4 linked regions of the Homo sapiens genome follow. The protein of the gene in region 4 purifies or fractionates together with the protein of the main gene of each other region. This does not show direct contact. Each region holds a gene or a part of one and is shown on either strand. Other genes may lie near its edges. The genes, in order: MIGA2, KIF14, IPO5 and SLC27A2.

Evidence for each region.
Region 1: the proteins of SLC27A2 (region 4) and MIGA2 purify together in Homo sapiens (affinity purification with mass spectrometry; 2 studies listed by BioGRID and IntAct, with this or other methods). This does not show direct contact.
Region 2: the proteins of SLC27A2 (region 4) and KIF14 purify together in Homo sapiens (affinity purification with mass spectrometry; 2 studies listed by BioGRID and IntAct, with this or other methods). This does not show direct contact.
Region 3: the proteins of SLC27A2 (region 4) and IPO5 purify together in Homo sapiens (affinity purification with mass spectrometry; 2 studies listed by BioGRID and IntAct, with this or other methods). This does not show direct contact.

The regions. Positions count from the first base shown.
Region 1 is NC_000009.12:129,032,554-129,039,841, forward strand, and holds the start of MIGA2 (mitoguardin 2), read left to right. Parts: upstream 1-4,072; 5' UTR 4,073-4,128; intron 4,129-4,380; exon of another isoform or gene 4,381-4,414; coding exon of another isoform or gene 4,415-4,463; intron 4,464-7,288. UniProt on the Homo sapiens protein: Regulator of mitochondrial fusion: acts by forming homo- and heterodimers at the mitochondrial outer membrane and facilitating the formation of PLD6/MitoPLD dimers. May act by regulating phospholipid metabolism via PLD6/MitoPLD.
Region 2 is NC_000001.11:200,610,660-200,617,972, forward strand, and holds part of KIF14 (kinesin-like protein KIF14), read right to left. Parts: coding exon 6,953-7,313; intron 4,951-6,952; coding exon 4,696-4,950; intron 3,747-4,695; coding exon 3,659-3,746; intron 1-3,658. UniProt on the Homo sapiens protein: Microtubule motor protein that binds to microtubules with high affinity through each tubulin heterodimer and has an ATPase activity. Plays a role in many processes like cell division, cytokinesis and also in cell proliferation and apoptosis.
Region 3 is NC_000013.11:98,005,454-98,012,766, forward strand, and holds part of IPO5 (importin-5), read left to right. Parts: intron 1-676; coding exon 677-895; intron 896-2,605; coding exon 2,606-2,689; intron 2,690-4,427; coding exon 4,428-4,560; intron 4,561-4,649; coding exon 4,650-4,771; intron 4,772-6,792; coding exon 6,793-6,889; intron 6,890-7,313. UniProt on the Homo sapiens protein: Functions in nuclear protein import as nuclear transport receptor. Serves as receptor for nuclear localization signals (NLS) in cargo substrates.
Region 4 is NC_000015.10:50,177,647-50,185,365, forward strand, and holds the start of SLC27A2 (long-chain fatty acid transport protein 2), read left to right. Parts: upstream 1-4,549; 5' UTR 4,550-4,781; coding exon 4,782-5,259; intron 5,260-7,719. UniProt on the Homo sapiens protein: Mediates the import of long-chain fatty acids (LCFA) into the cell by facilitating their transport across cell membranes, playing an important role in hepatic fatty acid uptake.

The sequences.
Region 1 (7,288 bases), on a different chromosome or scaffold from region 4:
GAGCAGCCACCCCACGTGGCAAAGCAAGGAGCCTACCGAGCTGATAACACACTGCTGTCCATGGACAGCAGAGCTAAGAGAGCACTGTAACATGTCCTCTGGGGCTTCAGGGTTTGCAGGCACCCCGACCTGGGCACCGCCATGGGGCCTGCATGGAGCCTCCTTCTGCCCACGCCCAGAGCAGCCAGCGGGATCCTGCACTTGCTCGCCCACATGCTCCCTCCCACAAGGGTTGAGCATGGCGGGCTGGCCTAGACAGGGCACCCCCATCGCAAGTCCAACAAAGAAGTCAAGAAAAATCCTGCATCGCCTCCAGGAAGGAGGAGAACTTGTGGTAGGAGCTTTATGCTGAATAGGTTGACTAAACATACATATTCAACAGGTTGCAGGAGGTGCTATGAATATTCATCAAGGTGGTCCCATGTTCACTTTGTGGTGAATTAATATTTAGATGTATTACAATTAGGCCCTATATGTCAAGAGGATTGTTTAGGGACATGAAGGCACACAACGGCCAATCTCTGCAAAATGGCCAGAACTGGTCCATGGCCAGTGGTCTAATTCTTTTTTTTTTTTTTTTTTTTTAAGACAGGGTCTCGCTCTGCCACCCAGCTGGAGTGCAGTGTTACAATCACGGCTCACTGCAGCCTCAACCTCCTGGGCTCAAGCGATTGATCATCCCGCCTCAGCCTCCCAAGGAACTGGGACCGCAAGTTATAGAGACGGCGTTTTGCTGTGTATTGACCAGCCTGATCTCCAACTCCTGGATTCCAGTGATCTTCCTGCCTCAGACTCCCAAAGTGTTGGGGTTATAACCATTAGCTACCGCACCCAGCTGTTGGTCTTATCAGAAGAGTAACTGAAATTAGTCTTTTGTCCAATGAAAGCTATAGTTAGGCTAGTAGAACAGGAGTTCAGTTAGTCAGCGTCCGGGAGCTGAAGGAGCTGCAGTTGTTTGAGTGTTGCTTATCTTGAGGCCAATGCTTGTTTGTATTTATTTATTTATTTATTTATTTATTTATTTAATACATCCTTCATTGGAAGCCAGTGCTTATTTGGCTGCTAGAGAAAAACAAAACAAAACACCTTTTGCCAGTTAGAGGACAGTTATTTTATTTTATTATATTTATTTTTTTGAGATGAAGTCTCACTCTGTCACCAGGCTGGAGTGCAGTGGCACGATCTCGGCTCACTGCAACCTCCGCCTCCCGGGTTCAAGCGATTCTCCTGCCTCAGCCTTCTGCGTAGCTGGGATTACAGGCACCTGCCGCCATGCCCAGCTAATTTTTTGTATTTTTAGTAGAGACAGGGTTTCTCCATGTTGGTCAGGCTGGTCTCCGACTCCCAACCTCAGGTGATCCGCCCGCCTTAGCCTCCTAAAGTGCTGGGATTACAGGCATGAGCCACCGTGCCTGGCCCTTGGCCCCCCCCCCACCCTTTTTTTTTTTTTTGAGACGGAGTTTCACTCTTGTTGTCCAGGCTGGTGTGCAATGGCATGACGATCTTGGCTCACTGCAACCTCCACCTCCTGAGTTCAAGCGATTCTCCTGCCTCAGCCTCCCAAGTATTTGGGGGCAGGTACCACCACCCCCGGCTAATTTTATATTCCAAAGTTACCACAGTACTTACAGCACCCTCAGCCTGGGTGTCTAAGCTTATCATCCCATGCGCCTCCTCCCCTGTGCCAGACAACCCCACTAATGACTCTGGCCTGTGCACTCATTCCGCCTGGACCCCAACAACATCCCCGACTCCCTTTAGCCACTCTGCCCAGTCTCCTATTCACCCCATGCCAGACCTCTCACCAGTCCCACCATGCCGGGCACTGGGCATCCGCTGTTTGGACCACCCTCCCCTCCCGTCCCCTCCCTTGCCTTCCCCTTCCCTCCCCTCCCCACGGAGTCTCGGAATGCAGTGGCGCCATCTCGGCTCACTGCAACCTCCGCCTCCCGGGTTCAAGAGATGATTCTCCTGCCTCAGCCTCCTGAGTAGCTGGGATTACAGGCGCATGCCACCACCCCTGGCTAATTTCATCATGTTGGTCTGGCTGGTCTCGAACTCCTGACCTGGTGATCTGCCCGCCTCGGCCTCTCAAAGTGCTGGGATTACAGGCGTGAGCCACCACATCCGGCCTTGGACCCCTTTTCTTTCTGGAGCCCTTCACCTCCCCAGGCAAGCCCAGGTATCTCCTTGGTATCCCACATTCCCCCATTAGAGTAACCATCACAGGGGATTGTGATTAAGTATCTGCTCCCCAGACAATGAGCTCCCTGGTGCCACCACATACCTGTCTCTTGTCCACCACTGAGCTCCCATGTCCAGCCAAAGGATTGGCACACTTAATTAGTTGAATGAATGAAGGAATGTGGCTTTACCGACAATTGTAATTTTCCTTTTTTTTTTTTTTTGAAATGGAGTCTTGCTCTGTCACCCAGGTTGGAGTGCAGTGGCGCAATCTCGGCTCACTGCAACCTCCACCTCCCAGTTTCAAGCGATTCTGCTGCCTCAGCCTCCTGAATAGCTGGGACTACAGGCACACGCCACAATGCTGGGCTAATTTTTATATTTTTAGTAAAGATGGGGTTTCACCATGTTGGGCAGGATTGTCTCGATCTCCTGACCTCATGATCCACCTGCCTTGGCCTCTCAAAGTGCTGGGATTACAGGCGTGAGCCACTGCTCCCGGGCTTTTTTTTTTTTTTTTTTTTTGAGATGGAGTCTGGCTCTGTTGCCCAGGCTGGAGTGCAGTGGCGTGATCTTGGTTAACTGCAATCTCCTCCTCCCGGCTCAAGCAATTCTCCTGCCTCAGCCTCCCAAGTAGCTGGGATTATAGGTGTGTGCCACCACGCCCAGCTAGCTTTTTTATTTTTAGTAGAGACCGGTTTTCACCATTTTGGCCAGGCTGGTCTCGAACTCCTGACCTCATGTGATCCACTCACCTCAGCCTCCCAAAGTGCTGGGAATAGAGGCATGAGCCACTGCTACCGGCCGACGATTACAATTTTAAAACGTAGTTGTGCCCAGCTCTTCGCAGTTATGGAAGGGCTGATACACCGTCCTCTTTCCATCCTCACCAAAGCCCTATGATTTGGGAAAGGGAAGATTTTATCCCTATTTCTTTTTTTCTTTTTGAGACGGAGTCTCGCCCTTTGGCCCAGGTTGGAGTGCAATGGGTGGATCTCAGCTCACTGCAACCTCTGCCTCCCGGGTTCAAGAGATTCTCCTGCCTCAGCCTCCTGAGTAGCTGGGATTACAGGTGTGTGCTACCAAGCTTGGCTAATTTTTTTTTTTAATCTTTAGTGGAGACAGGGTTTCACCAGGTTGGCCAGGCTGGTCTCGAACTCCTGACCTCGTGATCCACCCACCTCGGCCTCCCAAACTGCTAGGATTACAGGCGTGAGCCACCGCGCCCGGCCTCATCCCTATTTCATAGAGGGGTAAGCTCTAGAGAGCTGAAGTGGCAACACTTGATTCTATCTCAGGTCGGCCTGATCTCAATCCTGGTATTTAGTGTAAGACCCAGATAGGTGGCCAGAACTGAAGACCCCTTGACTCCAGCTCTCAGAGAGACACTGTCTAGCGGCGAGACCTGGCACTTTTGCAAACAACTCCAGAACAAGGGGGAGAGTGGCGACAGTATAAGAGCATGCTGCGGGAAGTCAGGGGCGGTAGTATTTGAAAATGGGCGCTTGGAGAGTGGGAAGGATTTGTCCTTGTGTGGAACAAGAATAGAGGATCCTAATACGAGGGCTCAGCCTGCTTTGGCGTACTCCAAGAAAGCCCCTTGGAGGTCTGACTGCTCCGCTTCAGCCCCTTTAAGAATGGCCCCGCCCCACCCAGCCGCCCATGTCGATCTAATCTGAATGACCAATAGTAGAAGAGAAGAGACCACTTTCGCGCTTCAACCGCACTAGGAGGAGGGGAAGAGGGCGGGAGAGGCGGAATATAAGCTTGGTCACATGACCCGCCTAATTGGCCAGAGGCTGCGGCGGCCCTGAGAGACTCAGCGATGCTCATTGGCCAGAAGAGGGTGGGGGCTTGGCGCTAGGCCACGCCCCCGGGCGGCCGGTTTGGTTGCGCAGCCGCCGGGGAAGGAGACGCTGCCCTTCCGCAGCGATGGCATCCCGGGTGAGTATCGGCCCCGGCCGAGCCCCCAAGGCGGGCGGGCAGCGCGGCAGGGCCGGGACTTGAGCGGAGGACCGAGTAGGCGCAGGTGTCCGGGCCCAACAGGACCAGGAAGGTGTCGGGGTTGGAATGAGTGGGTACCCGGGCCGGGGACGGTGCGAGAGGGTGCCTTGCTTGGGAGCGGAACGAGAAGGTACTTGGGTCAGGGAGGTGATGCCCGGGCCTGGAACGTGGCGGGGATTGGAGCAGGCGCGCAGGTACCCGATCCGAGGCGGGGAGAGCACCCGGGATGGAAGGAGCAGGCGTGCGGGCCGTGAGCGGCGCCAGAGGGTACCTGGGTGAGTTTCAATGATATTCCGGGGTGGGGGCAAGAGAAGAAGGGGCTGCCCAAGATGCCTGGGGTGGAGTGAGCAATTTCTGAAGACGGGGATATTGCTGAGGTCCAACGCGGGGATGCCCGGTGCCCGGCATGGTGGGACTATTGAGGGGTCCGGCATGGGGTGAATAGGAGACTGGGCAGAGTGGCTCAAGGGAGTCGGGGACGTTGTTGGGGTCCAGACGGAATGAGTGAGTGCACAGGCCAGAGTCATTAGTGGGGTGGTCTAGCGCAGGGGAGGAGGCGCGTAGGATGATATGCTTAGGCACCCAGGCTGAGGGTGCTGTAAGTGCTGTGGTGACGGTGGAATGAGGAGGTGTCCGCCTAAGATTGTAGGGCACAAGAGATGGCTGCCCAAGTGGGGCCAGGCCCTACACAGCAGTAGAAGTGTCCATTTGGTAGGGGACCTTGCCGTGGGCTTTTCATTGTGGAGAGGAGGTGGAGGGGTCTCAGCTTAGGCCCTGGAGGACGGACAGGGTGCCAGGGGGACGGACACAGTGTGGGTTGACTGGATTTGGATCCATCCCTGGAGTGAAGCAGGCTTGGGGGCTGGTGATGTTACCTCGCACCTGCAGGCTCTGCCTCCCAGTGGGGACAGCAGGGGCTGCTCTGGACTCTCCCGCAAACAGTGGGCCTCAGTCACCCCTGTAGCGTTTATTTGTTCAGGCTCATCTTTAACACCATGTGGGCTTCTCACTTGGGGGCCCAGAAGTCCTACAGTTGTGGCCTGGAAGGAGCAGTGGCAGTTGTAGCAGGCAGAAGCTGGGAAACCCTGCCACAGCCTTGAGATCCCCCAGAGCTTGGCCGCTTAGTACTCGGTGACCTCAGGCAGGCTGCCTCATCTCAGAGCCTCCGCGTTTCCCCATCCTTGAGATAAACATTGGCCATTGCGAGGGTTCTGAGAGGACTGGACCCAAAGCCTGTCGTGGAGAGCCTGTTCTGGATCTGGCCTGGAATAAGAGCTTGGGAAATAGTAGCTGCTGGCCCTCTGATGTTCTTGTCTTCCCTCTTTCTGAGACCTGAGCCAGCCTGGGGTTGGGGTGAAGGGTAGGGGGACGTGGCTTACAGTATTAACCTAGGTCCTGACCACTGCAGCTCACGTAGCTCAATTCACAGCCTCCTGGGCAGATGTCTCTACCCCTGACAACCTGGAAGCTTCCTTAGCCTGCCCTGCCCTCTCACACACCCCCACCAGCCCTAGAGCGAGACTGACAGGCTCCTCAGTCCTTCCCACTCACTGGGGAGAAGCTGTTTCTTCTGCTGGCCCAGTGACTTTGGCGGCCATCCCAGGGAGACAGGGTCTGTCCTGGCTTGTGTGTTCCTTCCGCTTGAGGTCCCGGGAGACCTTGAAGGCATCCTTGGGCTTGGAGCTGGAAGTGGGGGAGGACCCTGCCGGGTCTTGGGGTCCAGGCTAGGTGTGATCAAGCCACTTATTTCCTGGCCTTGGGAAGGGGCAATGGGGTACCCTGGCAGGGAGGGGAGTATCTCCCAAGGTCCAGGGGAAAGCTGCCCAGTACTCTGTGGTCTGCTGGGGCTTGCTACTTCCTGCTGCATGTCAAATTTAGCAAAAGCATTGTACTGAGCACAAAGTCTGACTCTACCAAGTACCAGCTGTGTGACTTTGGACTCCTGACTTAGCTTGTCTGAGATTCAGTTTCCTCATTGGAAACCAGAGGTGAGGCTGGGGGGAAGGTGGGTGGCATCAACTTCACATAATCCTTTTTTTTTGTTTGTCTTTTTTTTTTTTTTTTTTTTTTTTGTGGCAGAGTCTCGCTCTGTCACCCAGACTGAAGTGCAGTGGCGCGATCTAGGCTCACTGCAACCTCTGCCTCCTGGATTCAGGCGATTCTCCTGCCTCAGCCTCCCAAGTAGCTGGGATTACAGGCACGTGCCACCACACTGGCTAATTTTTGTATTTTTAGTAGAGACGGGGTTTCACCATGTTGACCAGGCCAGTCTGGAAGTCCTGACTTCAGGTGATCCGCCCGCCTCAGCCTTCCAAAGTGCTGGGATTACAGGCATGAGCCACCCCAGCCAACCTCACAAAATTCTAATGATTCAGTGAGATGATGGATGTAAAGAATGCAGCACAAAATACGTAGCGTGGAGTAGCTCTTTGTTTGTGTGTGTGTGTGTGTGTGTGTGTGTGTGTGTGTGTGTGTGTGTTTTATTTTATTTTATTTTTTTGTTTTTTATTTATTTATTTTTTGAGATGGAGTCTCACTCTATTGCCCAGGCTGGAGTGCAGTGGCGCGATCTTGGCTCCCTGCAAGCTCCGCCTCCTGGGTTCATGCCATTCTCCTGCCTCAGCCTTCCGCGTAGCTGTGATTACAGGTGCCCGCTACAACGCCCGGCTAATTTTTTGTATTTTTAGTAGAGATGGGGTTTCACTGTGTTAGCCAGGATGATCTTGATCTCCTGACCTTGTGATCCTCCCTCCTCGGCCTCCCAAAGTGCTGGGATTATAGGCGTAAGCCACTGTGCCCAGCTTCTTTATTTTATTATTATTATTATTATTTTTTGAGACAGAGTTTTGCTCTGTAGCCCAGGCTGGAGTGCAGTGTTGTGATCTCAGCTCACTGCAACCTCTGCTTCCCGGGTTCAAGCGATTCTTCTGCCTCAGCCTCCTGAGTAGCTGGGGTTACAGGTGTGCACCACCACGCCCAGCTAGTTTTTTGTTTGTTTGTTTGTTTGTTTGTTTGTTTGAGACTGAGTTTTGCTCTTCTTGCCCAGGCTGGAGCGCAGTGGCCCCATCTTGGCTCACTGCCACCTCCACCTCCCAGGTTC
Region 2 (7,313 bases), on a different chromosome or scaffold from region 4:
AAAGAAGTATAAGACAAGATTCTTGCTCATGAGGCTAAGATCTCAGAGACATATAACATACCTTCCAATAGATAAAACACAGCAATAGAAAATTAATTAAGAATCAAAATGAGATGACTATAAATATGACTAATCAGAAAAGGGAAAATTTAGGATGGCCAGAGAAAAGGGAAGGAGTAAATAGAATGTGAGGCATGAGAGACAGAGTAGATTGAACCAGAAAGAGGGGGTAGGGCATTCTCGGGCAAGGACAGCAGCATCTGTGCATCACATGTGCTCAGAATAGGAAAGACACCCTGTAGGTTGACATTTGATCTGGTAAGATGGAACCTTAAATCAACAATTCTTCCTGATTGGGAGAGAAAGCAATCATTAGATTAAGTGGGCTGAGCTTCTCCTCCTTTTGACTCTGAAAGATACAGTGTAGAGGCCAAAAACGGGAAACTTTGCTTCCAAACAGCTCTTCTGACAGTTAGGGCATGGTTTCCTTATTAGAGAAATAAATTTCATCCACTGACCCAGAAGTGAGTCAGCAAGCATCTAACAGAATTGGAAGCTTCAAGGGAGTGTCAAAGAGATTTAAGTTCAATTCACCAAATATTTATTGTGCCCTACTAGGTACAAAGCACTCTTCTAGGAGCTGTGGGAAAATATGAGATGAACTGGACATAGTTTTTATCCTGAAAAAACTCAGAAGCTAATTGGAGATGCAATACAGTACATGAGTAATACAAGGCAGAATATAGCTGGTGTCATGAGAGAGAAACAAAACACTTCCAAAGAGACCAGGTATAAGGGAACACCAAGTAATTATAAGGTCATTGACAAATGCTATGAACAGGGATGGGGGCTGTCAGAATTCAATAAACACGTAATAATGCTTATTTTATGTAAAATAGTATTTTATGTTATAGAGGCTCCAGGAGGACTTAGAAATGAAAATGTAGTGTGGGAAACAAATTGGAAAAGGTAGCTGGGGCCACACTGGAGAGGTCCTACTTTTTTCTTCTCCTCTGAGGCTCCTGCCATCATGCTCGCTATACCACCTTCTATTACCCCCATCCACATACTATTATTCTCTACCATCCTGGCTAATTCCAAAGTTGATATAACCACATTTAGTTGGGCTCACTATGTGCCAGGCACTCTTCAAAACCTTTTGTATAGATCAACTCATTTAATGCTCACAACAAACCTATGAGAAAGACATTGTCAATATAATCTCTATTTTCTGTTCTGAAACACAGAAAGACATTAAGTAAATTGTTCAAGATCACATTTCTACTGCAGTGATGAAGCTGAGATTCAAATTCAAATAATGTATCTCCAAAGTCCATGCTCTTTTTTTTTTTCTTTTTTTTGAGACAGAGTCTTGCTCTGTCGCCCAGGCTGGAGTACAGTGGCATGATCTCAGCTCAGTGCAATGTCCGCCTCCAGGGTTCAAGCGATTCTCCTACCTCAGCCTCCCGAATAGCTAGGATTACAGGCGCCCACCACCACACCTGGCTAATTTTTGTATTCTTAGTAGAGACAGGGATTCACCATGTTGGCCAGGCTGGTCTCAAACTCCTGACCTCAGGTGATCCGCCTGCCTTGGCCTCCCAAAGTGCTGGGATTACAGGCGTGAGCCACCATGCCTGGCCAACCAGGCTCTTAAGCATTCATTACACTATGTTATTCAATGACATAGTCATTCCACGCAAAATCTGAGCCTCCTAGTCCTTTGAAATCATTCCAAAGACCTTTGCCTCCACTACACTTATCTATGTCTTCCTGGCTTTACCTTCAAATTACTATCCCTCTAAAATCTGGAGAGCCAATAGAGAACTCTGCCCCACAAGCCCACAGCTTTCTCTTATGCCCACTAAACTTGGACTTGAATCATATTTCATCTCATAGTCTCAATACCACCATATTTCTATTGATCCCCATACTCCTCCTATTTTCAATTTAATTACTGGGAATGAGAGGTTGAGGGTAGAAGAAGACAGAGGAGAGGCAGTATATCCACAGAAGAGACAGAACTCATCAATTACTCAAATCTACTTTTCCTCTTGTGATCTCAAAAAATGACATCGATATCTAATCTGGTTGTCCAACCAGAAACATTGATTTCTCTCTCCCTCATCCTCCATTTCCAATAATCAGCAAGTCTTACCAGTTATCCTTACTAAGACAGTCCTTCATGAGCCAAGTTCTGCAGGCCTTTCTAGTTTATTCTCTTTTTTTTTTTTTTTTTTTTTTTTGAGATGGAGTCATGCTCTGTCACCCAGGCTGGAGTGCAGTGGCGCGATCTCGGCTCACTGCAACCTCCATCTCCCTGGTTCAAGCGATTCTCCTGCCTCAGCCTCCCAAGTAGATGGGATTACAGGCATGTGCCACCACACCTGGCTAATTTTTGTATTTTTAGTAGAGACAGGATTTCACCATGTTGGCCAGGCTGGTCTCGAACTCCTGACCTCAGGTGATCTGCCCGCTTCGGCCTCCCAAAGTACTGGGATTACAGGCATGAGCCACCGCACCCAGCCTCTAGTTTCTTCTCTTATCACTTTCCACCCTCAAATTCCATGCTCAAAACACAGTGAACAATTTATAGATTCCCAAAGGCTCCCTACTTTTTTGCTTTCAAATCTTGGTACATGCTGCTCCCTCTCCCTGGAATATCCTTCTCCCCTTCTTTACCAAGCTAATAATGCTATGTATCCTTCAAAAATAAGCTCAGCTGCTCCTTCCTCTGAGAGAATGTCTCCCTCCAACTTTATATGTCCTCACTTACATGTTCTATTAGAGCATCTACTTTAGTTTGTTTAGCATTTAATTGATTGTACTTGGCTGTTAACTTATTTCTCCCACTACACTCCTTTGAATACAGGGACTGGGTCTTTTAACTCCACACCCCTAATCTAGCACAATTTTCCCAATTTCCTTTATCATAAAAAATACTGGAGGAAAAGCATGAAAATTATAAAATCCCAAGCTCTACACCAGACCAACTGACTCAGAACCCCCAGAAGAGATTTTTAGCAAGTGTGTACATACACATACACATGCACATATATGTCCCTGCCAAGAATCCCCGGTGATTCTTATGACCAAGAAAATTTGAGAAAAAAAAAAACTGATCTAACAAGCTGCCTGGCAACAGCAGAATGCTCAGTAAAAGGTAGCTGAATGTGTAAATGAATAAGTGAAATAGGAAGCCAGTACAGCCTATTCAGGTGTAGTAGAGTGGAAAAAGCATGGCTTTTGAAGTCAACTCTGGGTTCAAATCCCAATTTCACTACTCTTTCTGATTCACGTTGTCCAAAAGGTTATGCCTGCTGTCCTTAGTTAAACTGTACACCTATCTGACTACAAACACACGTATAACAGCACATAGCTACCATGTTTGTGAGCCTCTACGTATACACAAAAGTAAAGCAAAAACAAGGGAGAAAAGACAGAAGAGATGACTTCACTATCACTGCCCACTAGGTGAAACTGATTCTGAATTTAGAATTTCCACCCTCCCTCTCCATACCACTGTTCCAAAGAAGAGTGATCTACAAATTAGAACTGATCTTCCATTAAGTATTTCCTTAGTGGCCATGACTGATTTGAACTTGATTTGACTATTTTCTACTCTGAAAAGAAGCTTGCAGGTATTATAAGAACATACCTCTTGGGTTTGTTTTCTGGCTACTTGAGAAAAAAGATCTTCACAAAATCTTGGAATTATTCCTGGTTCTTCACTAAATCCCATCATCCTGAAAAATACATTATGAATAAGGGGGAAATAAAACTAATTCTTTCTTTAAAATTCTTTTTGGGGAAATAGGCTGGGAAGGGAGTAGGAAGCAAGTTCACTGAATCTCATAATTAAGAATCTGGACTCTGGAGTCAAATCTGCCTGAGTCCAAATCTTGACTCCAAGATATTTAACCTCACTAAACTTCAATTTCCTCTACTGTAAAACAGGAATAATACAACTATCTAATTCAGAGAATTGTTGTGAAAGAATATAAGCAAAGTCTTTAGCACAGTGTCTGGAATATAGTAAGAACTCAAATGTTGGGCAACCCGCTTGGGACCCCTCCACGCTGTGGACTGTGGAAGCTCTGTTCTTTCGCTCTTCACAACAAACCTTGCTACAAAAAAAAAAAAAAAAAAAAAAAAAAAAGAACTCAAATGTTAGCTACTGTTAAAATGCTGAGTATTTCTTTCTAGGACAGGTATTATTATCATAGCTACCATTTATCAGATGCCCCTCCACCCTTTTTTCTTAAGAGATGGGGACTAAGTTGCCCAGGCTGGACTCGAACTCCTGCACTTAAGCAATCCTCCTACCTCAGCTTCCCAAGTAGCTGAGACTACAGGTGTGTGCCATCACATCTAGCTTAGATGCCTTACTTTTAATTCTCACCAAAATACTTAAAAGATAACCTCTCTAGGCCTTAGTTTATGTAAAATATATAAAGTACAGTAAAATGGGGCCAATGATAATTACAAGATGAATTGTATCAAGGTAAATGTATAAACTGAAGCCCAGAGGCTAAGTAAATTGCCCAAGTTTGCAGAACTGGTATATAAAATGGATGAGATTTGGGCCAAGATCTGTGTGATTTCAAAACTATATTCTTTCTATCACCCCTATGCCACTTCTCACAAAAGTATATTTAAACACTTCTGGATAATTGCATTTCCAATACAACTTACGTATATGATTTTCCAGAGCCAGTCTGACCATAAGCAAAAAGACAGGTATTGAAGCCTTCGAAGGCTCTTTCTAGGAGTGGTGCTGCTAGCTTCTCATAGACAGTTGTCTGGCTAGCGTAGTGAGGATGACATTCATCAAAAGACCAGAATGAAACATCATAAATAAAATTATAAACTTGTTTCGTGTCAGGGTGTTCCACAGTTATTTCTTTCCCACTCATGAAGACTACCTGGGATGCTTTTTCAATCTTCTCTCTTGAAAGAAGCACAAAGAAAAAAATCAAGTAACTAAAATGATCAAGGGTATTATTCTCACAGAACATAATAAATACCTCAAAACTATTTAAACAATCTTCCAAGGCAAGATAATTCTGTAGTTTTATGTGGAAAATGCAGATAAGCAAACATAATTCTAGTGGGTTTCCAAAATATATTTCCTGAGGCTCCAGTGCCACCAAAGGGAAAATCCCAGATTCCTCCAGAAAACCTATCCTACTTTTACAAGATTTTTTCCTCTTTTTTTTTTCTCTTGAACTATACCTTTTCCCATCCCACCTACTATAATCTACCTATACTCTTCATCCAAATCTACATCTTTATTATACAAATTTGGGGGGGTACCAATCTAAATAAAGCTGGCATAAAATACAAATATCTAATTTTAACAAACTCAGTTGACTGTAAGTTTCAATCATAAGTCTCTCTTGGCTACTAAAGATCTCTCCTCCTTCCTCTAGATTCTCTCCCTTAAAATCATGAATCTTTCTGTATATCCTTTTTCCCTTTGAGACTTAGGTGGAAATCTTTCATTTACTTTAGATCTACAGAAAAACATCATCACTCTTTGTCTGGCTCCAGATATACACTCCCTCCCCGCTCCATCCCTGACTCTGAGACTGCTTTAAATCAGAATTTATTCTGGAAAAAACACCTGCCTCATCAATTTGACAAGTACTCTACCCTGGCCCTGCTTTCAAGGCTTGTCTGATGAGTTTGGAATCAGGCACTTGGTCCCTTACTAAGTTCAGTATAGTCATCCATCTTGCATTTTGTCCCTACCAGCTCTTTCTATTGTTTCTCTTCCTATCATGGTTCTTGAGGCTCTATTAGACATTCCAATTCTCTCAAACCAACTCACCCTCAGTTCTCCCTCTTAATACTAACCCATTTGCACGAAAAAGATTCTACAGTACTGTATAACTTGCCTTTAACTACTGACCCCTTAGGTTCAAACTGGAGGTTCCTGCCCTGATGCAGTGGTCACCAAATCCTCTTCTAACTTGCTTAGATACACAGCTTCAAGTTAAACACTACTAACTCTGTGAAGTTTTTCACTGTCCCTTAAAATATTTTAAACAACTACATTAAAATATTTTAAAACAATTACATTTTGTCACATTCACATTTTGTCATGTCCATCTTTTCCAACCTTATCTTTAATCTGTGTCTTCCCCACCCACAACCACTTTTAGAGAGAGATTTTTTGCCATCAAAATCAAATCTAATGTATCACTGCATTTATAACTACTATATAGTAATCGGAGACAATGATGATGATAATCACCACTCTGGAAAGGGTTTTGAAAGGACCTCTTTAGGGAACCAGTAATTTGTTATGGCTCTTCTTTTTTTTGAGACAGTCTCGTTCTGTCGCCCAGGCTGGAGTGCAGTGGCCTGATGTCAGCTCAATGCAGCCTCTGCCTCCCGGGTTCAAGTGATTCTCCTGCCTCAGCCTCCCGAGTAGCTGGGATTACAGGTGTGCAACACCATGCCCAGCTAATTTTTGTATTTTTAGTAGAGACAGGGTATCACCATATTGGCCAGGCTGGTCTCAAACCCCTGGCCTCAAGTGATCTGCCTGCCTTGACCTCCCAAAGCAATGGGATTACAGGCGTGACCCACCACACCTGGCCTGTTATGGCTCTTTTTAAGGGATAGGTATAACATTCCAGCATATATTGCAGATCTGAAAGCAGATTTCATTAGAGACCTAAGTGACTTATTCAGACTTTTTAAAAGCAATATATCTAGAGAAACTTCAATATACAAAATATGGTGATTCAATTTTTTAATTTTATAGTCAGTGATCAAAAATTATCAACACACACTACAACTAGACCTAAAAGTTCTTTCTATATAAAAGTATTGCCAACAAGTTTGAAGATGCACGAATACACTGACCTTCCAAAGGCAGAGAGGAATTAAAGGTACCTTACATGTAACTGCTTGGCTTTAGATTTTAAAAGGCATCACATACCTCTTGGTGAAAGGTCTTACGCGTACTGCCACTGTCACTTGACTATTCTCTACTTTTAAGGGGTCTTTTCCTGCAGAGGTGTTCTGAACTACAGTTTCTTCTTCGGGAAGAATTGTATTTTCTGCGGATCTTTCCTGTTTATTTGCAAGAAAGGAACTTTTTGGTCTTTGTTTAACTTGAAGGTTAGACATTCTATTCTTCAGTATTGATGGAGCTGGGCTCTTAAGCTGAGGCAGGCTGCACTTTGTTGTCAGTTTGTGTTCTGTTGTACATTTTGTAGGTGTTCTTTTTTCTAAGCTCCCAAATTTATTTGAAGTTTTTGCAATTTCCTTCCCAATACTTCTATGATACAAGTTTCCTG
Region 3 (7,313 bases), on a different chromosome or scaffold from region 4:
CCTGACTCAGGTGATCCGCCTGCCTCAGCCTCCCAGAGTCCTGGGATTACAGAAGAATTATTTTAAAATATTGCTGGTGACAGGACGGGCCCAGCAGCAAATAGTTAGTAAGCATTTGTTACTAGCTGGGTCAGAGAACACCAGATCTTTGGTGCAGAGAAAAAGGTCATCTCATCTGTTTCAGCAAGACAGATGCAAGAGAAGGCAGCAGGGTTCCTTCGTGCGATCTTCTGGGGAGAGGGGGTTAGAAGATAAAGGAAGGGGCCAAAGAGGGAATTTTCTTTATGACGTAGTAAGACAGCACAAAATATAATCATAAGTAGAGGAAATCAGTGAAGAAAAAAATGAGGATGAAGTGTAGGCATTAAAGTTGATGAACACAAAAATTTTGATTCCGTATCTGTACTCAAGAATTAGCTGTGCTTTGAGATGAGACTAACATGAGTTAGAGGTGTTGTGTTAATAGAAGAGAGAAAAAAAAAATCTCACATAAATAGTTCAACATAGATTCTTTTTATAGAAATTTCCTCCAAAACCTACAGTCTCTGCTTCTGGAGAGGTGGTCTCATTCTGCTGTTTCAGAAAAGCATTCAAGAACTTGAAGGGAGTAGTAATTGTAAATTTAAATACTTCTTCCAGTTTTCCTTTGAGGTAATAATTTGTGTCTTCCTTCTAGCTGATTCAGAAAGGCACCAAGTTAGTTTTGGAACAAGTTGTGACATCCATTGCATCAGTTGCCGATACTGCAGAAGAAAAATTTGTCCCCTACTATGATTTATTTATGCCATCACTGAAGCACATCGTTGAGAATGCGGTTCAAAAAGAACTGAGACTTCTGAGAGGAAAAACTATTGAATGCATTAGCCTCATTGGTCTGGCTGTTGGGAAGGAAAAAGTAAGTAATTTTTTTTTTTTTTTTTTTTTTTTTTTTTTTTTTTTGAGACAGAGTCTCGCTCTGTCACCCAGGCTGGAGTGCAGTGGCACGATCTCGGCTCACTGCAAACTCTGCCTCCCAGGTTCATGCCATTCTCCTGCCTCAGCCTCCCGAGTAGCTGGGACTACAGACGCCCGCCACCACGCCCGGCTAATTTTTTGTATTTTTAGTAGAGACAAGGTTTCACTGTGTTAGCCAGGATGGTCTCAATCTCCTGACCTCGTGATCCGCCCGCCTCGGCCTCCCAGAGTGCTGGGATTACAGGCGTGAGCCACTGTGCCCGGCCTGTAATTTCTATTATGTTAAATTTACTGTACCTAACTTGGCTGTGGAGGCATTGAGAGTACTAGAGGGATTTTTTCCTTCTGAAAAATGGTTTTCTGGATGCTTGTTTTTTTCCTTACTCCTTTCACATTGCTCCTGTTTTATATACAAATTCTTGCCTTCATCTTTTCATTGTTTGTTTGTTTGGTTTGGTGTTTTTTTTTTTTTTTTTGAGACCAAGTCTCACTCTATCACCCAGGCTGGAGTGCAGTGGCATGATCCTGGCTCACTGCAACCTCTGCCTCCTGGGTTCAAGCGATTCTCCTGCGTCAGCCTCCCAGGTAGCTGAGATTACAGGCACCTGCCACCACTCCCAGCTGATTTTTGTATTTTTTTTTTTTAGTAGAGATGGGGTTTCACTGTGTTGGCCAGGCTAGCCCTGATCTCCTGACCTCAAGCAGTCTGCTCACAGGTGTGAGCCACCGCGCCCAGCCCGTCTTTTCATTGTTAATATTAAGGTTTCTTTTTAGCTCAGCTGTGCTCCTGATGCCTCCTCCTTTCCCCACCACACACAGTGCATCTCGTGGGAGGTGTGTGGAAGTCAGTATCCATGTTCGTTCCCTTTAAATATGTGCTTGGAAACATGTCACTTGCTTTCCTATTAATCTAAAATGCATCAAGTGTTCTAAGAGAGAAATCTATGCATATAGATCTTCAGAAAATAATTACCAAGGACCATTGGCCAGTGTGTTTCTCAGCCAACATCTCAGAATTGTTCAAGCTAATGCAAAAGAAGTTTCTCTGTCATTGAATCCTCATGTTCTGACCCTGAGAATTATCAACAGAGAAGCTCTGTCTTGCCTTCTTCAAAACCAGCATCAGTATTAATTTATATTTGGAACTGGTTTCTGTGAGACGCTGACCACTAAAACATTGGTATGTTTTTTACCAATAAAATATTTGTATGTCCCATACTCTATATATCTGGCTTTCAATGTCTCTTTAAAACGCTGCCTGTTTATACAATGGAGATTACCAGAACTGCAAAGAGTTAAGTGAAAATCATAGACAAAATTTTATGCAGTGAATTCTATAAACAATCTAAAATTTTCTTTCTGAATTTGAATTCAGTTTTACTGCTTGAAATGCGTAAGCCATAGACTAACACCTGATGCCATTAGAAGTACCTTTATACTGTAGTTCCCTGCCCTTCAGTGGAAAATATATTTTTCTAGAAAGTGAACTAAATCTGTCACAATATAGATGAGAATTTTTCAATATGATAGTTTATCTATGAAAGTTATGACCTATGTGGGCAATGTAGTCGATTTTTTGGCAAAGCTTTGCTAATTACACAAGAAACAAAATTCGGTATCAACAAGTGTGTCTCTACATATTTTCCTCTAGTTCATGCAGGATGCATCAGATGTGATGCAGCTTTTGTTAAAGACCCAGACAGACTTCAATGATATGGAAGATGATGATCCTCAGGTAAGTGGTCTTAATGCATTTGCTTTGATCCGCTAATGAGTTGTGGACAGCACATGGTTCAATATATTTAAAACAAAAGGAGTGATAGGTTTCTTGACATACTATCAACCCCTGCTAGCAGAGACATTCTTCACTGATTTTCCTTCTGTTTCTCAAGCTACTTTTTCTCAGTCTGTTGTAGGTTGCTCTTGCTTTCTGTGACTCTCACTCAAGTTTTGGTGTTTGTGGGTTCTATCCAAGGCTCTCTTCTCACTCCTGTGGAGCAGTGTCACTCACAGACATGGCTTCCGGTTTCCTCTGTGTGCTTGCAACTTTCAGATCTTCAGAATTGAAGATTCATTTATCCAACATGTAATAGACATCTCCATTTGGGTGTCTCCTAGCCCTTTGAAGGCTGCATGATCTCCCTCCCCTGGCAGAAAATACAGAACCCAAGAATCTCAGGACACACTGCTTGCCTCTCCGCCAACGAACAGACAAAGGCATTTCATTAGGAGGAACCCCTGCCTCTCGACACACACGCACATACACACATAGGTATACATACCCAGCTAACGCTTGCTCACAGTTCTCATCCTTTACAAGATTTTCCTGATCTGCTCAGTCTCAATGGTGGGCAGTTCCAACACTGTTATAGTAACATCATAAATGTTTGTCATATCTTGATGGTATTCCCAATGCCTAACATATAACAAGGCACTCAATAAATAATTGTTGAATTAAATTTTGACTTTACATTGCCACACTGTAATAGTTTAAATAGGAAAACATACCATTTTGCAAAGAAAGCATGTTTTGTTGTTGTTTGCTTTCTTTGCAAAATGATATGCAAATATACATGTATGTTTTGTATGTACAGAGATAACAGGCAGGAGGGATACTTAGCAGACTGCTGACAGTAGGGAGACTGAGGGGACTGTAAGCTGTAGGGAGGGGTGGTAAGGACGAGGCGTGTTGCTCACCTTTGTATCAGCCAGCATATAGTTTAATGCCTGGCATGTGAGAAACACCCAGTACCTATCTGAAGAGCGGGTGGACTTTTACATATAAAATCATTAAGAGGTGGGGCATGTGTCCATGCATGCTCAATAGATAAATAGGTAGGTGGATGACAGATATCAGGGGATAAGAATCACTTTCTAGGTTGCAGGGGTGGTGAATGGAACCAGATTCTCTAGGTAATTTGCAGATGATAAAGTCTGTGTAAACACAGTAATAGGAGAAGAGGTGTTTTAAATATACTCAGCCACTTATGAGAAAATTATAACAGCTAAGAGAAAAGGATGTTTTGTTTCTTGGGTTTTAATAAATGTTTAATGAATGGAGTGGCAGGCAATAGGGATACAGAGTCAGATAAAATACATTTCTGTCTTCAAAAAATTTGTAACTGGGAGTTGATGAAGTGTTTGGTTTTGTTTAGGTGATTAGTTTCATTTAGATGATTCAGATGCTAAGAAAGAAAACCATTATCACTTACTGAAAGTAGAAAGAAATACCCAAGGTTCTGGTCTTTGTGTTTTGCCTCACCTGCTGTCCATATCCCAGTGTAGTGAGTTCACAGGGATTTCATTATTGATTCTGAACCTTTTAAGTACATAACCTTTAGAAATGCTCTTACTGCTTAAAGTACTGTGAACATATCAATAAAACATTGTTTCTATGAAATAAGGAAATGGCTTTCTTTATCACGTTTACCCATTGTTTTTTAATCTATTTTAATTTTAAAATTTTTCCCCAGATCTCTTACATGATCTCAGCATGGGCCAGAATGTGCAAAATCCTTGGAAAAGAATTTCAGCAATACCTTCCAGTGGTTATGGGGCCTTTAATGAAGACGGCTTCAATTAAGCCCGAAGTAGCCCTTTTAGATAGTAGGTGTCTTTAGAAGGAGCTATCGGTTATAATAGTTCTCTCTTTGTTATTATTTTTCATATGCATTTGTTTTCTTCTCCGTTAATAGCCCAAGACATGGAGAATATGAGTGATGATGATGGTTGGGAATTTGTGAACCTTGGAGATCAGCAAAGCTTTGGTATTAAAACTGCAGGACTAGAAGAAAAATCAACTGCTTGCCAGATGTTGGTAAGAGAGCACTGTTTTTACTAAACTTTTATTTTACATCTTATATACATTTCATATGAGTGCTTTTAATAGCTGCTAAAGAAATTACTTTGGAGAGCCAGTAATATGTTCCTTAAAAAGTAAAGTTTTCTTTCCATTTTAAAGAAATCGTATGGATAAACCTTTCATTATCAGTGCTGTTTTAAATAGCAAAAAACAACAAATAGCCCAAATTCCTGTTAGTGGGAAGATGAATTACTGTGCCTTGGAGTAATATACAGCCATTACAAAAAGTTTATAAGCTACATGAGGGAAGGATTTTTGTTGGTTTTGTTCTTAGTCTATAGTAGGTGGCCATGGAATGTTTTTTAAACAAATGAACAGAAGTGTGTTCATGCTATTTAATGTGAAACAAAACTTGTATGATTTCAATTGTGTAAAAAAACAGATATGGCAGGAAAATCAAAATGTTCGGTTATTATCCCTTATGGTGTTTGTGGTGTGCATATGCATGTTTAGTTCCTAGTTTTCTTTTTGTTTTCTTTATGAGCATGCGTTTTAAAGTGAAGGATAATCCTTTTTTTTTTTTTTTTTTGAGGTGGAGTCTCTCTTTTTCACCCAGGCTGGAGTGCAGTGGCACGATCTCGACTCACTGCAACCTCCACCTCTGGCGTTCAGTTGATTCTCCTGCCTCAGCCTCCCGAGTAGCTGGGATTACAGGCGCCTGCCACCACAGCTGGCTACTTTTTGTATTTTTAGTAGAGATGAGGTTTCACCATTTTGGCCAGGCTGGTTTCCAACTCCTGACCTCAGGTGATCCGCCTGCCATGACCTGGGATTACAGGCATGAGCCACTGCACCTGGCCAATACTTACTTTTAAAGTTAGATTTTAGAAATTAATGTATTTCTTATTGTCATCTTCAATACTTAGTATCTATAAATTATAAACACTTTGGATTTTTGTGGGTTTTTTCTCTCAACTGGAAAGCAAATACAAATAATAACATCTTTAAACAGAATTAATCTTTAGATGTAGTAGAAGAGAATGAAACAATTGGGTTTTTGGGGTTTTTTTTGTTTGTTTGTTTGTTTGTTTTGCTTTTTGAAACAGAGTCTTACTCTGTCGCTCAGGCTGGAGTACAGTGGCTTGATCTCAGCTCACTGCAGCCTCCGTCTCCTGGGTTCAAGTGATTCTCCTGCCTTAACCTCCCGAGTAGCTAGGATTACAGGTGCACGCCACCATGCCTGGCTAATTTTTTGTATCTTTAGTAGAGACGGGTTTTCACCATGTTGGCCAGGCTGGTCTTGAACTCCTGACCTCGTGATCCGTCTAACTCTGTCAGCCAGGCTGGAGTATAGTGGTGCCATCCCGGCTCACTGCCACCTCCACCTCCTGGGTTCAAGCGATTCTCCTGCCTCAGCCTCCCAAGTACCTGGCATTACAGGTGCCCGCCACCATGCCTGGCTAATTTTTGTATTTTTAGTAGAGACGGGGTTTCACTGTGTTGGCCAGGCTGGTCTCGAACTCCTGACCTCGTGATCTACCAGCCTCAGCCTCCCAAAGTGCTGGGATTACAAGCATGAGCCACCGTGCCCAGCCATGATTTTTTAAAAATACAAAATAACAGAAGCGTTTTCTACAGATTTACAAAGTAAATGCTTCAATTAACTGATGGTTTCAGGGTTTTTTGTATCTTTTAGAATGATTTTTCCTCAATTAAGTGATACATTTTGTTTGATGTATTGCTGAAACTTGCTGAATGGAATACGAATGATTCCAGCCTTTGAAGGGACAATATATACGACAATAATTTCCTTTTTTTTTTTCTTTTTGTCACTCACCAATACTACAATCATTTCATGACCCTTCTTTTAAGACTCTTTTTAGTTGGAAGACTAATTTGACAGTTCTACATGCAACTTTAAATGTAGTTCTAGTCAAAATACAACCTCCTGTGGTCCTTATGATTTTGCTGTTTGTTAATATTAATGCTTGAAGACTAACATGAATCTTTATTTCCTCCCAATACTTTGGTTACAGGTTTGCTATGCTAAGGAGTTAAAGGAAGGCTTTGTGGAGTACACCGAACAGGTTGTCAAACTGATGGTCCCTTTACTGAAATTTTATTTCCACGATGATATCCTACAACTTCTGAATACAAAACATGTCTAGATTTAGTAAACTTGTAGTTTCTTGGAGTATTAGACAGTGTTGACTGAAGTAGACTTCACCATGATTGTTTGTATTTGCACTAAGTGTACTCTTAGGTGATAAACTCGGTTCTCTGCATGTGCCTTTGTTTCCACTTGTGCCAAAACATGAAAAAGAAAACGTGACCTATCCTATGTTTGTCAGCTTTCTGTGGCCCACTTAAGGATTTAAGGATAATTAGCAAATGATTACAATTATATATAGTTGCTACTTTCCCCAAATATCTTTTGGTAAACGTTAAGAAAATAAGACTTTTATTTTAAGAGATGGTGTCTCACTCTGTCACCTAGGCTGGAGTGCAGTGGCGTGATCAGGACGCACTGAAACCACAACTTCCCAAGTAGCTGGGA
Region 4 (7,719 bases):
TCAGCCACTAGGGCTCTACCGAGTAGTTTGGAAGCCAATGGACTAAATCAGTAGTTCTCAAAGTATAGTCCCTGGACTAGCAGTGTCAGCAATACCTGGTAACTTCTTAGAGATGTGAATTCTTTGAATCAGAAATTTTGGAGATGGGGCTTAATAAACTATATTTTAGCATGTTCCCCAGGTGATTCTCAGACTTGTAAAGTTTGAGAAATAGTGAACTACTTCATCTCCATAAAGTAGGAAGGGACGCCACCTGCTTTAAAAGAACATTTGAGATTGGGATTGGAAACTTTGAAGGGGGTAGGGAAGGTCTGGGACTGCCAATAGGAAGCCTTCTCTCAAATAGCAGAGATAGATGATAGGGATGAACGTCCTGACCAAGGCTAGAAGGTGTCAGTATGCACACCCAGTAATCCTGTCTTGCCCCTAAACTTCTCCTGCAATACCTAGAATAGGACAGAAGACAGTGGGCATTTGAGGTCATCTATACCTGGATAGAAAGTTTAAGGAAAAGAGGGGTCTAGGAGGCCACGTTGAAGTGACTGGCCAGGAAGGGACCGAAATCTTGATAGAGGAAATGAATAGGCTCAGTAATGTCAGAGAATGGGAGAAGTGGAATGAGGAGGCTTAACTAAGCCTATGGGGACGGAGAATCTCCATGTCTGAGATCTCAGTGCTGACAAAATCCTAAATTACATCAAAGTCCAAGATCTGGCTCTATTTCATATTTCCCTGTGGAATTTATGTTACTGAATAGACAAACTTGTATAAAAACAATTTCTATATGGTATAAAAACCCAGACAAAAGTTGCAGTTTTCTACATTCAAAAATATTTTTAATGTTTTTATTTTTATCTGTTTGTGAGAATTTGTAAGATTATTTTGTTTTGTTTTTCATATGAGATGGGGTCTCACTGTGTTGCCCAGTCCAGTCTTGAACTCCTGGCCTCAAGTGATCCTCCTGCCTCAGTCTCCCGAGTAGCTGGAATTACAGGTGCATGCCCCCACACTTGGATAATTTCTGTACTTTTTATGTGTTGGTGTAACATTGTCTTCGTCTTTTCTTGGAAAGGGCTATATGTTTATTGTTACTGTCTTTAAAATTGTGGTAAAATATGCATAACATAAAAATTAACTATTTTAACCATTTTTAAGTGTACAGTTCAGGTATACTTTTTTAGTGCCAAAAATGTCATTCTTCTATAAAATAACAAATATACTGTGATGGGGGAGGGGGTTGTTCTTACTAGAAAAATTAAGAAGTCGTTACTTATTTTGAGTCCCTAACTTGGTTTCGAAATATAACACGGGACTAAGAAATTCAGGAATCAAACAACTACTGCCCTAAAGGAGAGTTGAGATTTACAGGGTTAGGATGGTCAGGGGTGGAAAGTGGTAAGAACAAGCCAGTAGAAAGAGGAAGGTGCAGGGCATTTTTAGGAGTGTGCAGACCAGACTTGCTAAAAACAAAGTGCGCTTGAAAAGGAACAGTTAGAATTAAGTTTTGGTCCATTTTAAAATATTTAATACCTAATAATGTTTGGTTCATAGCAGAAACTCAATAAATATTTGTCAATTGAGTGTAGTGAAAGCTTGAGTGAGATTCAGAAGAGCCAGAAAATAAAGTTTAAATTTCATTTTATAGACCAGAGGTTCCCAAGAGATGTACCAAGAATGGGCAGCCAACGTGCTAAGCTATCGATCACCTTTCAAAGGAGTCAGGCAGAAGCCAGGGCATCTGGTCAACTCTAGGCCAGGTATGTTCTAGTATGCTGTACAAGTACAACTGTCTATAGATGTCATTGGTGGAAGACAATAGGAAGCAATGGGGAACCACTAAAGATAATTGAGCAGTGGAGATATAAGATGGCAGCAATATTTCCAGGAAGACTATTGCTGTGGTTTTAATGTTCATGTCCCCTACAAAATTCATATATTGAAATCCTAACCCTCAATGTGATGGTATTAGGAGGTAGAGCCTTTGGGGAGTAATTTGATCATAGGGCAGAGCCCTCATGAATGGGATTAGTGCCCTCATAAAACAGGCCCCAGAGAGGTAATTTGTCCCTTCTACCAAACAGTACACAGTGAGAAGGCACCATCTGTGAGAAAGTAGCCCTTCACCAAACACCACATCTGCTGGCACCTTGATCTTAGACTTGCCTCCAGAAGTCTGAGAAATAAATTTCTGTTGTTTATAAACTACCCAGCTTACAGTATTTTGTTATAGCAGCCCAAACAGACTAAGACATCTATTAACCTCGTGATAAAGCAAGAGCTGGATCCCAGGCTCAAAGCTGGAATCACTGGGACTCCCAAGGTATATATTATAGACATTTGAAAATTACTTCCCCAAATTTACTCTCCCTAACCCCACTTTTTAATAATACCGTAAAACGTTCCACAAAATGGCCTAGGTGAAATTGATTATACTCTCACCCCCATGGGTGAGCGCTGATTGGCTTAAAACAACTAGCACCTTTTTCCCCAGGACCCACAGACATTGGTTCAGAAATGGGCGCATAATCCAGTCAGGGATTTTTTTTTTTATGAGAACTCCTAAGAAAAAGATTCCTGTACTTCTCTCTGAAGTTGAGCCAGAAAGCATGTACCCCTAAGGGCTGTTGGCAGCCATCTTTGGACAAAAACCAGAGAGCCTGAATGAGAACAGAGGAGGTGCAGAGGAGAAATAGTGAAAGCAAAACTAGATCCAGGTGTCAGCATTTAAAATCCTTGATGTCTTAGCCCCGGACTCTCCAGTTACTACTTAAATTCCTGTTTCTGCTTCAGCTAGCTTGGGTCTTGTTTTCTTTTACTTGTAACTGAGGTTAAAGTGATCCTCAGAATAAGAGGGGAAAAAGTGGACCCTTGTGGTAATCTAGCACTCTGGGTAGACAGTAGCTGTTCAAGGAAAAGAGAAGAGGGGTGCAGGTGGCTACACAGAAGCGATTAGCCATCAAGGGACGAGGGTGGCATTGGGATGAAAAAGGAAGGGCTGGCTCTGAGCTTCACCATGAAAGAAGTGCACATGAGAATGGTTTCTGTCGGGCCCTCACTTTGGTTAATTCTACTGCTTTCTCCTCAGGGATGATGAAGGCCCCCAGCTCATCCCCAGGGAAATGATGCAACCAGGTAGCTGGATCAGAAATGAAAAAGTCAGGAAAAGGGAAAGGTTGCTTGCGCAGTTACTAGGGATACGAAAAGGAGGCTAAAAAACGGCAGGGGGTGGCCTGGAGGGAATGTGAAACATTTTTGTGTGTTTTACACACACCGAAAAAAAAAGAGGACATGGACAGAAACCTAGAGAATAGGAGGACAGCATAGTATAGTTACTAAGAATAAGCTAAGAGTTGGTTCCCCGGGACCAAACAGATACCATTTCCAAAACCCACGAATTACTTACCGGCTGTCTCAATTCACCTAAGCTTCCCTTTCTTGTCTGTAAATGAGCATGAAAGTGCCACCTGTATAAAATAACTCAGGCTCCCAAAATGTAACATAGGGAAGCTCCTAGCAGCGTGTCTGGGAGGAATAAGCATTATCTGTATTTATCGTATCAAATTAAGATAGAGGAACACAGGAGGACAGTAGAGGATGAAAATAAAACACTACTTAGATCCTGACCCTCCTCAGTGGCAAGTAGTGAGCATTCACTTCGTACAGAAGTAGCACTAAGGCAAATTAAAAGAAAGGTTCACATTTCCTCTAAAAGAAATGGTTTTTGAGTCATGCCAATACCACTTACTCAATGTCCTCTGTACTATACTATTCTCTGACAGAGCCACTTATTAAATGTGTGAACTGTGCTGACAACACTTGACAACTTTCAACATGAGGGAACAGCAGGATCACTTAACAGAACAAAATCGTAAAATAATGTCAAAGCTTGATTTCAGGTGGTGCGGTGTAGCACTGCTCTTCACGAAATCAGGACTCCCCCGACCAGGCAGGGCCGACTAGGTTAGAGTGTCCTGCCCTCACTCACCTGGCAGGGCTTGGGATGAGCTGGACGTGACTGCCACAGGCATTTCTGTTCAACCTTGAAGCCTTCGCTACAGGAGACCGCCTGGCAGTCGGGCTGGGAAGCAAATCTGAGAAACAAAGAGAGACCAGGCGGAAAGCCCTTGGGACCAGGAAGGAGAGATGAGATTCTGGTTTGGCAGTGGCACCTGGTACCCGCTATTAATAAATAATAGGACTGTCTGACATTTATAAGGCACTTTATCGGTAATAACAGTGTCATCTCCATAAGCCATTCTATTAGTGGTAACAAATAATAGCCCCACGCCTGCAATATCTCCTTTAATATTCCCAACGTCCGCTAAGCGCGTCTCATCACCATTTAAAGAAACCGTGGCTCCTAGAGGTAAAGTACTTCGGTCACAACGCGAGGAGGTCCAGACTTGACCCCAGACCTCCAGACTCGAGCTGGGAAGTGGCCGAGGCTCCTGGTGAGCCGCAGGGCAGCCTGCCCAGCCCCGGGAGGACCGCGTGGGAGGGCCGGGAGAGCAGGTGGCTGCCCCCCACAAGGGGGCGGGCTCAGCCGGCCAGTCCTGCCCGGAACCCCCGGCAACGCGCATACGACTACACCTGCTCCGGAGCCCGCGGCGGTACCTGCAGCGGAGGAGCTCTGTCTTCCCCTTCATCTCACGCGAGCCCGGCGTCCCGCCGCGTGCGCCCCGGCGCAGCCCGCCAGTCCGCCCGGAGCCCGCCCAGTCGCCGCGCTGCACGCCCGGGGTGAACCCTCTGCCCTCGCTGGGACAGAGGGCCCCGCAGCCGTCATGCTTTCCGCCATCTACACAGTCCTGGCGGGACTGCTGTTCCTGCCGCTCCTGGTGAACCTCTGCTGCCCATACTTCTTCCAGGACATAGGCTACTTCTTGAAGGTGGCCGCCGTGGGCCGGAGGGTGCGCAGCTACGGGAAGCGGCGGCCGGCGCGCACCATCCTGCGGGCGTTCCTGGAGAAAGCGCGCCAGACGCCACACAAGCCTTTTCTGCTCTTCCGCGACGAGACTCTCACCTACGCGCAGGTGGACCGGCGCAGCAATCAAGTGGCCCGGGCGCTGCACGACCACCTCGGCCTGCGCCAGGGAGACTGCGTGGCGCTCCTTATGGGTAACGAGCCGGCCTACGTGTGGCTGTGGCTGGGGCTGGTGAAGCTGGGCTGTGCCATGGCGTGCCTCAATTACAACATCCGCGCGAAGTCCCTGCTGCACTGCTTCCAGTGCTGCGGGGCGAAGGTGCTGCTGGTGTCGCCAGGTGAGCCCCGAGGATCGCCCTGCCCTGGCACCAGGGCTTCTCGGCGCCTTGACTGACGAGCCACAGCGTGGCATAAGGGGTTCGCAGAGGGAGGTTCAGATCGGAACTGTAGGTATAGAAAAAGGTTGGCAGTGTTTCCTTGAATCGCAAATAATGATCTTTTAGGACCACCTGTTGTGGAAGCTGATAATGTGCTAGGTTCTGTGTTAAGCACTCTACAGGCAGTGTGGTTTTTAATCCTCACAATGGGTAGGCTTTGTTATAGGACTTTTATAGATGAGACCACTGAGGTCCTGAGAGGTGAAGCCTCATGCCCAGCCATCTATCTCCAAATTCCAAGCTCTTAATCAATACTTATAACATCTGCATTAAAATGCAGAGGATCTTGAGTGCGAACTCTAGTGGATCCAGAGGGGCTCTTCTCACCTCTGCTGCTTGACTGGCTGTGTGATCATGGGAAAGTCACTTCTCCTCTCTGTCCCTTGGTTTGCTCCTCTCTAATGAGGCAGGCTTCAATGTTGCTTCCAGCTCTCAACTGCTGTTAGCATCCTGTCCCCTCCCTGCAGAACAAAGGTGACCCCACCTGATCCCCAGGGAGAAGATACTGGGGATCTGCTACAGGACCGTTGTGAGCCCCCACTGCATCTATCACAATAGTGACCCTTTCAGTTCTGTGGTTAGCTCCTGCCACATTTCAGCCAGACTTGAAACAGTAACTTAAGTGATGACAAGGTCAGGAAGTGACAGAGAACCTGTTACTCACAGGGCTGATGGCTTTCCCCTCCCAGAGAGCTTGTCTCTGCACTTGAATAAGGACCAAGGGTTCCTTCTCTCAGTCAGTAAGAAGAGGCCTACACAGGAGTGGGCTGAAAGACCTGGGTGACAGGGTAGGGGTCGAGGGAGCCGAGGAGCCTCAGCTTTCTAGAATGCATTTCTGTGCTAAGCCCTATAGTAGATGCTTTTATTACCCCGGGAGATAACATATCACTATCCCCACCACCACCACCACCATTATACAGTTGAGAAAACTGAGGCTTAAAATTCCAACCTAGCTCTATCCAACTTCGAAGCCATGCTCTTTCCTACATCTTTTTTTTTTTTTTTTTTGACAGTCTCGTTCTGTTGCCCAGGCTGGAGTGCAGTGGCGCTATTTCAGTTCACTGTAACCTCTGCCTCCCAGGCTCAAGCGATCCTCCCAGCTCAGCCTCTCAAGTAGCTGGGACCACAGGCATGCACCACCATGCCCAGCTAATTTTTTGTTATTTTTGGTAGAAACAGGGTTTCACCATGTTGCCCAGGCTGGTCTCAAACTCCTGAGATCAAGCGATCCACCCACCTTGGCCTCGCAAAGTGCTGGGATTACAGGTGTGAGCCACCACACCCAGCCTCTTTCCTACATCTTATTGTTTTCCTCTGCATGGATGTAAACTGTTAAGTGTGCTGGAAGGGATGAAGTGTCCACTTGCTCTACCCCTTCATTTCATAGCTGGGGAAACTGAGGCAAGCTAAGCGGGTTACAGAAAGATGAAAGGTTAATTCACTTGTGAGAAACCAGGAATCTTACACACCTGCTTCATGTGGCATGAAATAAATAATCCAAAAAATATAGGCTTTGTATAAAAGTTTAAAAGCAGAAAGCCAAATTTTAGGCTGGGCGCAGTGGCTCAAGCCTGTAATCCCAGCACTTTGGGAGGCCGAGGCAGGTGGATCACTTGAGGTTAGGAGTTCAAGACTAGCCTGGCCAACATAGCAAAAACCCCGTCTCGACTAAAAAAAAAAAAATTAGCTGGGCATGGTGGCGCGTGCCTGTAATCCCAACTACCTGGGAGGCTGAGGCAGGAGAATCACCTGAACCCAGGAGGCAGAGGTTTCAGTGAGCCGAGATCATGCCACTGCACTCCAGCCTGGGGGACAGAGTGAGACTCCATCTCAAAAAACAGAATAAAAAAAAGACAAGTTTAAAGGTGGCTAAATTATTTGGAAGAGATGGTCCTTTCAAGAAAATTCCCATTAATTTCTAGCTGCCTGAGAAAAGCGATAACTTCACTACTTTGTAACTAGAAGACTCTCCTAAGCCTATTACTTTACCAGCTTGCTTGGAGGGAAATTATTAACACAGTGATCTTTGTACCACTTCAGGAAGCATTTAAATTCTGTTTATCACTTTAGTATCCCAGGTCCCCTGAGAGGGAGGTCACAGGGTTTGGAGTTTTGTTGACAAAGAAGTTCAGGATTAAATGACCATAATACAGTTTGATTCTGCAATAAAGTCAGAATTACAACCAGATACCCTCTTCCCACCCAGCTAACAGTTGTCTGCCATAGAGCTATGTGTTTACATAGAGAATATATGGGAATTTCTATATTAAACTCAAACGTGAACCAGACTTTACAGTGGACCTAAGGCACTCTCTGGACCGTCAACTGACCTCTGAGGGAGGCCACATATTTGAAAAAAAA